2 separate regions of the Homo sapiens genome follow, and region 1 is reported to be linked to region 2. The links are microRNA targets in miRTarBase. Many come from high-throughput screens and were not tested one by one. Region 2 holds a microRNA gene; the other region holds the end of a gene's coding sequence.
The links. Region 2 holds the annotated microRNA hsa-miR-4715-5p (AAGUUGGCUGCAGUUAAGGUGG, at 1,672-1,693, shown strand). A microRNA usually pairs through its seed, bases 2 to 8, with sites in the 3' UTR of a target mRNA and lowers its output. Matches are read on the target gene's strand: a 7mer-m8 pairs with bases 2 to 8, a 7mer-A1 pairs with bases 2 to 7 and ends in A, and an 8mer does both.

Region 1 (3,000 bases), not on the chromosome of region 2:
CAGGCATGATGGCACGTGCCTGTGGTCCCAGCTACTCGGGAGTGAGACTCTGTTTAAAACAAACAAACAAACAAACAAAAAAAAACAGAATAGAAAAAATTTAAATGATCCACTAAAATGGCGTAATGTCTTAAACCGGAAGCACAGAGATAATCTATTCCACATAGGTCAAATATCTGATCCAAGAGGCATAAACCAAAGGCAGTTTTATCAGCTAAATTTGCAGCAGTAAAGGATAATTTAGGGAATGATTTGAGAGAATATCCTACATTTCTTCATACATCCCAACTGCCATTTTCTAATGGCATGGGTTCCATGAACAGGGATGCATAGAAGTCATTCAAAGATTTGTTGAATGATACTGAATATGAATTTTGCATGAAATGGACAGAGAAAAGTATCTTACATTTGTCTGAGAACTACCTGTAATTAAAAGTCATTGAGAAACAAGGAGAAAGAGAACCAGTTTCTATATTACAGAATTCAGAAAAAACAAACACCAAAACTCTAAGCCATTTTACAAATAAATTCAATATGAAATCACTTACTTCCTATTATATTCACTTCCAGGGTTACTTTTAGAAAACATATCCATATCAACATGGCTTCAAGCTTGCCTACTGAAGGAAGTGCAAACTTTAAGAAGATCATCTTCCCTCTCAGTTTATGGAACTTAAAACATCACCAAGGAGAATGAAGGCTCATTGCCTATGGTTCATAAAAGAAATGTCCAAAGGCTTTGAATGCATAAACCAGCTAGAGTAGAATAAGGTTTCTTCCTATCAGATTGAAAAGAAGAGAGAAAAGAAAACTAAAAGGGTGTTAGACCAAGTTTTCCTCTTTTTTTTTTTTTTTTTTTTTTAAATATGGAGTCTCGCTCTATTGCCCAGGCTGGAGTGCAATGGCGCAATCTCGGCTCACTGCAACCTCCGCCTCCCGGGTTCAAATGATTCTCCTGCCTCAGCCTCCCGAGTAGTTGGGACTACAGGCGCCCACCACCAGGACTGGCTAATTTTTGTATTTTTAGTAGAGACGGGGTTTCACCATGTTGGTCAGGCTGGTCTTGAACTCCTGATCTCAGATGATCCGCCCGCCTCGGCCTCCCAAAGTGCTGGGATGACAGGCATGAGCCACCACGCCTGGCCTCTTGTTTGTATTTAGAGTTGATTGTCAAAGCAGTGGTCCCTTTTGATCAGAGTAACTTAGAAAAATCAAGTAATTCCTATGTAAATGATAGCTGAAATCTTCTGAAACCCAGGACTACTTATGCAATCACTTTTTAAAGATGATTCTTCCCTCTTTCACTGTGATTTTATGCAAGTAAAATCACACAAGTAGATGGGGAAACCAGAATCAACAGTCTCTGAGGGACTTTAGGCACAATTTGGCAGAGGGCCCCTGACTTCTTTTCTGCAATCTAATAGTGATCCAGCCATGGCCTCCTATGACCTCATCTGCTTACTGACTACAATGTCTTACATTTTCCTGAAGGATTTTTTGTTTACATGATAAATTCTAACCTCTGCATCTAACTATTGCTTTGCAATTTTGAGGTTAAATCACCTACACTGCTTTATGTAGGAGACAATCCTCAAACATATTGCCATTTGCCTGGGATCTCATAATGAAACATCTCCCTTCCCTCCACAACCACGTACATAATACATTTTAAGAGCTGTTTAACTTAGAACTTCTCAAAAAATATATTTTGAAATACTAAGTTTCATTATACCCTTACTTATAACCATGGTAGTCACTTTTCCCAACAATGAGGGTCACCAGACCAAATAATTAGGGTAAATTTTGACATACATCAATGGCCAGCATTTAGTCTAGGAATTCAAATATAACTAATGCTTTAAACACATAAGGAACTATAAAACCAAAATGTGTGCTTAAGGCGAGGTCCACATGAGTAACATTGCCACATTATCAGTCAAAGAAATGATCATGACAGTCATTTTAACCACTAACTGAGATCACAGAATGACTGTACACAATGACTCAAGTGGCCATGCATATAAAAACAACCTAAATTCCAGTTGACAATGTGCACATTTTTGGAAAAACAAATAAGTATAATATAGACTAGAAGGTCTCTGAGATACTACTTTTTCCTTTTTTCACCATATCTTTTCCAATGGAACTTTGGAGTCTTGGTTCCGGACCTGCTGTATTTCTAAGAGGAACTCTTCCCATCACCATGCTGCCTTCTGAGCTAAAGGCATGTGCTTCTGAATTGTACAGAGACAGACCTTCAGGAAAAATGTTCTGAATTTTCAAATGTACATCTTTTAAAATGTCTAACCTAAAAAAAATGAACAAACTGAAAAAAACATTTGTTCCTTTGTTATTAAAAATGACTGGTCTACAAAGGTTTTGTTTTAGTAGATGGGGCTACACAGTACGTAACTGAGACTGAAGACAAAAATCGAAAATTTGTGGTTTCTAAAAAGAGAAATAGGATATATAAGGTTGGCATTACCAGTTTTGGGGAGAAACACTGAATAAGTTAAAGGAAAAAAAAAGATGAGAATGAGTGATCTGTTTTATCTTAAGAAACTTTTGTCCCATACAGAATCTTTAAAATAGACAATTATATAAAATTTATCTATTGTTCTTATGACATTTAAATAAGTTAACACACAGTGGAAAGCGTGGCATTAGTTGTCTTCTTCCTCATCCCCTTTAATTACTGGAGTACCTAAAATGAAAAAGAAAATTATTACTGGTTATTCTCAAAAAATTGCTAAAATTCTAGATGAAAATATTTTCCTGGCCGGGCACGGTGGCTCACGCCTGTAATCCCAGCACTTTGGGAGGCTGAGGCGGGTGGATCACCTGAGGTCAGGAGTTCAAGACCATCCTGGCCAACATGGTGAAACCCCGTCTCTATAAAAATACAAAAATTAGCTGGGCATGGTGGCGGGCGGTTGTAATCCCAGTTACTTGGGAGGCTGAGGCAGGAGAATCGCTTGAACCCGGGAGGCAGAGGTTGCA
Region 2 (3,537 bases):
CCTTTCCCTTCAGGGCTCGGCTGAGGCGGTACCAGACACAGCCGGGGCCTCTCCTGTTGCTTTTTGCCAAGTTGGAAATCAGTTTTGTTCCCCGTACAAAACGCATCCACGCTGTCTGTCTCGGTCATCTCCAGTGCTGCACCTTGGCCCAGGAGCATGGTTGACTCAGAAAACCGAGAGCATTGTGAGAGGAAAGACGAGGCAGGGAGAGAGCGAGCTGGGGAGGCCCCTGTTCCTGCTGGGTGCTCCCCACTGACTCTCTCTCTCTGAACAAGCCAACCATTTTTGAACATAAGTCAAAGCGATATTTTCCAGAATGTCTCATACACATAATGGGCTACAATTGTTCACCTCCACTGAACAGTTTCAAAATATACGTGGCATGTAATTATTTTCTCAAAAAGGGTAATCTTATCGACCTGCGTGATTTAATTATATTTAGTTATGTATGTCTTGTCCCTCATAATTAATTGGTAGAAACCTAGGTAATGGCATTTCATAGTGCCATCGTGTCATTGTCATTATTTTATTTATTCGTGTTGCCAGGACAGACTTTAGTCAAATCAGATGTGTGTGTCTTTTTTAACTCTCATTGTGACTTGCATTGTAATATTTTCCATGTACACATTTATTTTTTTTTTTGGAAAGAAAATCATTGCTTTTAAGCAGGATGGAAAGTTTGATTCATTCCATAGAAATCTGGCTGCTGCCTGTGGTCTTTCACATCCATGGGGAGCATGTCTGGGGGCCAGGAGGCCATGCTGACAGAGACCCTCAGGTTCTCTCTGGCATGGAGGTGAGAGCCAGAGTTGAGCTCAGTCCTGCAGCTGCGCCGTGCTCCTCCTTGATCACGGTTAAATTCCTCCGTTTCTGGTCTTTTCTCTTTTTCTCCTTTCAGTTTCCTATCCTGTGTTAATTCCTCTGTAAAGCGTCTGGCCAGACTTAATGGGAATTCCTTCATAATGCGCCCTTGGGACTTGGAGAAGGCGTAGAAGGAGGGAGGGTGGTGTCTGTAATTCTTGGCTCTGTTCCCAACTACTGCATGCAGTGACATCTAAACTCAGTTCCTGCTTATTCAGTCCTGTACTAAGGATGTCTTTTTATTTTCTCTTGTCTGGTGCTTTGACATCTGGAGCCTTGCTGCCTCCGGAGGGACAGGCCCTCCCAGGGCTAGATAATTCCTAGAGATAGCAAACAGCATTGCTGCAGCATGCCTTACGTGTGCAAGCCACCCAATCCAACGTCCACACCCTCGGCCCCCTCTGTGTTTCATCCACTGTGCACCTGCTCTCATCACCCCAGGTCCAGCCACCAAGCAGCTAGGGACAGCCCTTTGTCCCAGGGTCCACCGAGGTTATTCAAACTAATGGATTCTAAACCTGCTTACCCCGCCTCTCCTGTTCTTTCCCATGGAAGGCACAGAAAAGACTCTCCCTCCTCTCACCAAGGTCTCTGCCTCCTAGGACGCTGGTCTCCCCTATGTTCCCCCTCCCACAGCGGTAGGTGTGGCGAGCTCCTTCTCTGGAGGACTCTGAGTAACAAATCCTCTTTTCAATGGCAGTCCTCTCCTGACCTGTCAGCCCCATAGTGCTTGAATAATAATAGAACTTAAATTGTAAAACATCCCTGGAGCTACTGCCCTCCCTTAGGTCCCATGAGAAAGGGGAATGAAAGTTGGCTGCAGTTAAGGTGGCTAATCAGCTGATGGTGCCACCTTAACTGCAGCCAATTCTAATTCCCCTTTCTCTTGGAAAAAGATGGGGAGATTATTCTGGAGTGAATTGTGGGCCCAGTGTAATCACAAGTCTGTAAAAGTGGAAGAAAAGCGGGCAGAGAGATCCGATATGAATACTACTTAATTTGCCATTGTTGGCTTTGAAAGTGGAGGACCTAGAGTCAAGGAGTGTGGGCGGCCTCTAGGAGCTGGAAAAGGCAAGGAAACATTCTCTCCCGCCGCCCTGCCGAAACCATCGTTTTGACCCAGTAAGATCCATGTCAGATTGACCTCCAGAATTGTGAAATGACAGATTTGTTTAGCCGGTGCAGTGGCACAAGCCTGTAGTCCCAGGTCCTCAGGAGGCTGAGGCAGGAGGATCACTTGAGACCAGGAGACTGGGGTTGCACTGGGCTGTGATTATGCTACTGCACTCCAGCCTGGGCAAGACCCCATCTCTATAAAATGAAATAAATAAAATAAAACTCCCCAAATTTGTGTTACTTCAAGCCACCAAGTTGTCATAATTTGTTGCCGCAGCGGGAAGCTAATACATGTGTTCATTGCAGAGTTTAACAAACAGATACCATGTTTATTTTTTTGTTTGTTTTGCATCCTCATTTTACAGATGATTAAAAAAAAAAAACACTTTTTAGAGGCCAGGTCTTGCTGTGTTGCCAGGCTGGTCTTGAACTTCTGGGCCTCACACAGTCCTGCCTCAGCCTCCCAAGTAGCTGGAAATACAGGCTCTATCTGCCATGCCTGGCAGAAACCACCTTCTTAACTACAGCTTTTTGTGTGTTAATATTGATTAAGATGATTTCCGTTAAAAAATGGCTGTAGGCCAGGTGTGGTGGCTCACATCTGTAATCCCAGCACTTTGGGAGGCCAAGGTGGGTGGATTGCTTGAGCTCAGGAGTTGGATACCAGCCTGGAAAACATGGCAAAACCTCATCCCTACAAAAAATACGAAAAATTAGCTGGGCATGGTGGTGCATGCCTGTAGTCCCAGCTGCTTGCGGGGCTGAGATTGTTTGAGCACAGAAGGTTAAGAGTGCTGTGAGACGTGATTATGATTGCACTACTGCACTCCAGCCCAGGTGACAGAGTGAGACTCTATCTCAAAAAAAAAAAAAAAAAAAAAAAAAAAAAAAAAAAAAAAAAGGCTGTAGCTGTTTGAATTAGCTAGGAATATATGGAATAGCTCCAAATTGCTTAGTGGGATCATGAAGACCCCGTGACCCGCAAAGATCATGATACGGTGGAAAAAAGGTGCTTTTTAAAATTGTTGTTCAAATACTTAGTGATAAAACTTCACGTATTTCTCTAGCACCATATACTTGCCTGAATTTTTATGAATTTGTATGGTACCATTCTTAGCTAGCTCTGTGAAGAGCTTATAAATTCTTCATTGTTCCTGTGAGGAAATGGGAGCCCAGAGAGGGAGGTTTCAGTCCAAAAGGGGCAGAGCCTGGGAGCAGAACAGGTGGCCCTGGGGCTCTGGGGTCCCAAGAGATGTTACTCAGGGCCACTGGCTGAGTGCCTGCGCGTGCTGCTCAGTCAGAGCCTCCTGTGTCCCTTTGATCTTTGATGTGTGTGGATGAGATCAAGTTGTTTAAATATTTCTGGCTTTTGAGAAAGTGTCTAACACCAGATAGTTATCCTGATAAAAGCCAATACCCAGAATTTAACAAGGATAGCTGACAAAGATGCTCTATGGATGCTTTTTAGAAAAATGTATATGTTATTGATCCTTTTTAGTGTAGCTGGTTCATTACAGCCACAGTCTTCAGATGTTTTTGATCTCACACCTCTATCAGTAA

Region 1: the mRNA of DNAL1 is a reported target of hsa-miR-4715-5p. Seed matches in the 3' UTR shown: 7mer-A1 at 974-980.

Annotation. Positions count from the first base shown.
Region 1 is chr14:73,695,606-73,698,605 of GRCh38, reverse strand. DNAL1 (dynein axonemal light chain 1) reads right to left here. Exons shown (of 8, transcript NM_031427.4): 8 at 1-2,704. The coding sequence ends at 2,664. Among named protein-coding and RNA genes, the nearest start is that of PNMA1, 17 kb to the left of the region's middle. RefSeq lists an enhancer at 507-676.
Region 2 is chr15:25,846,951-25,850,487 of GRCh38, reverse strand. It overlaps MIR4715 (microRNA 4715), which reads left to right and starts at 1,663; the gene lies at 1,663-1,741. All of the region lies in intron 1 of ATP10A (ATPase phospholipid transporting 10A (putative)), which reads left to right. RefSeq lists enhancers at 45-104, 155-204.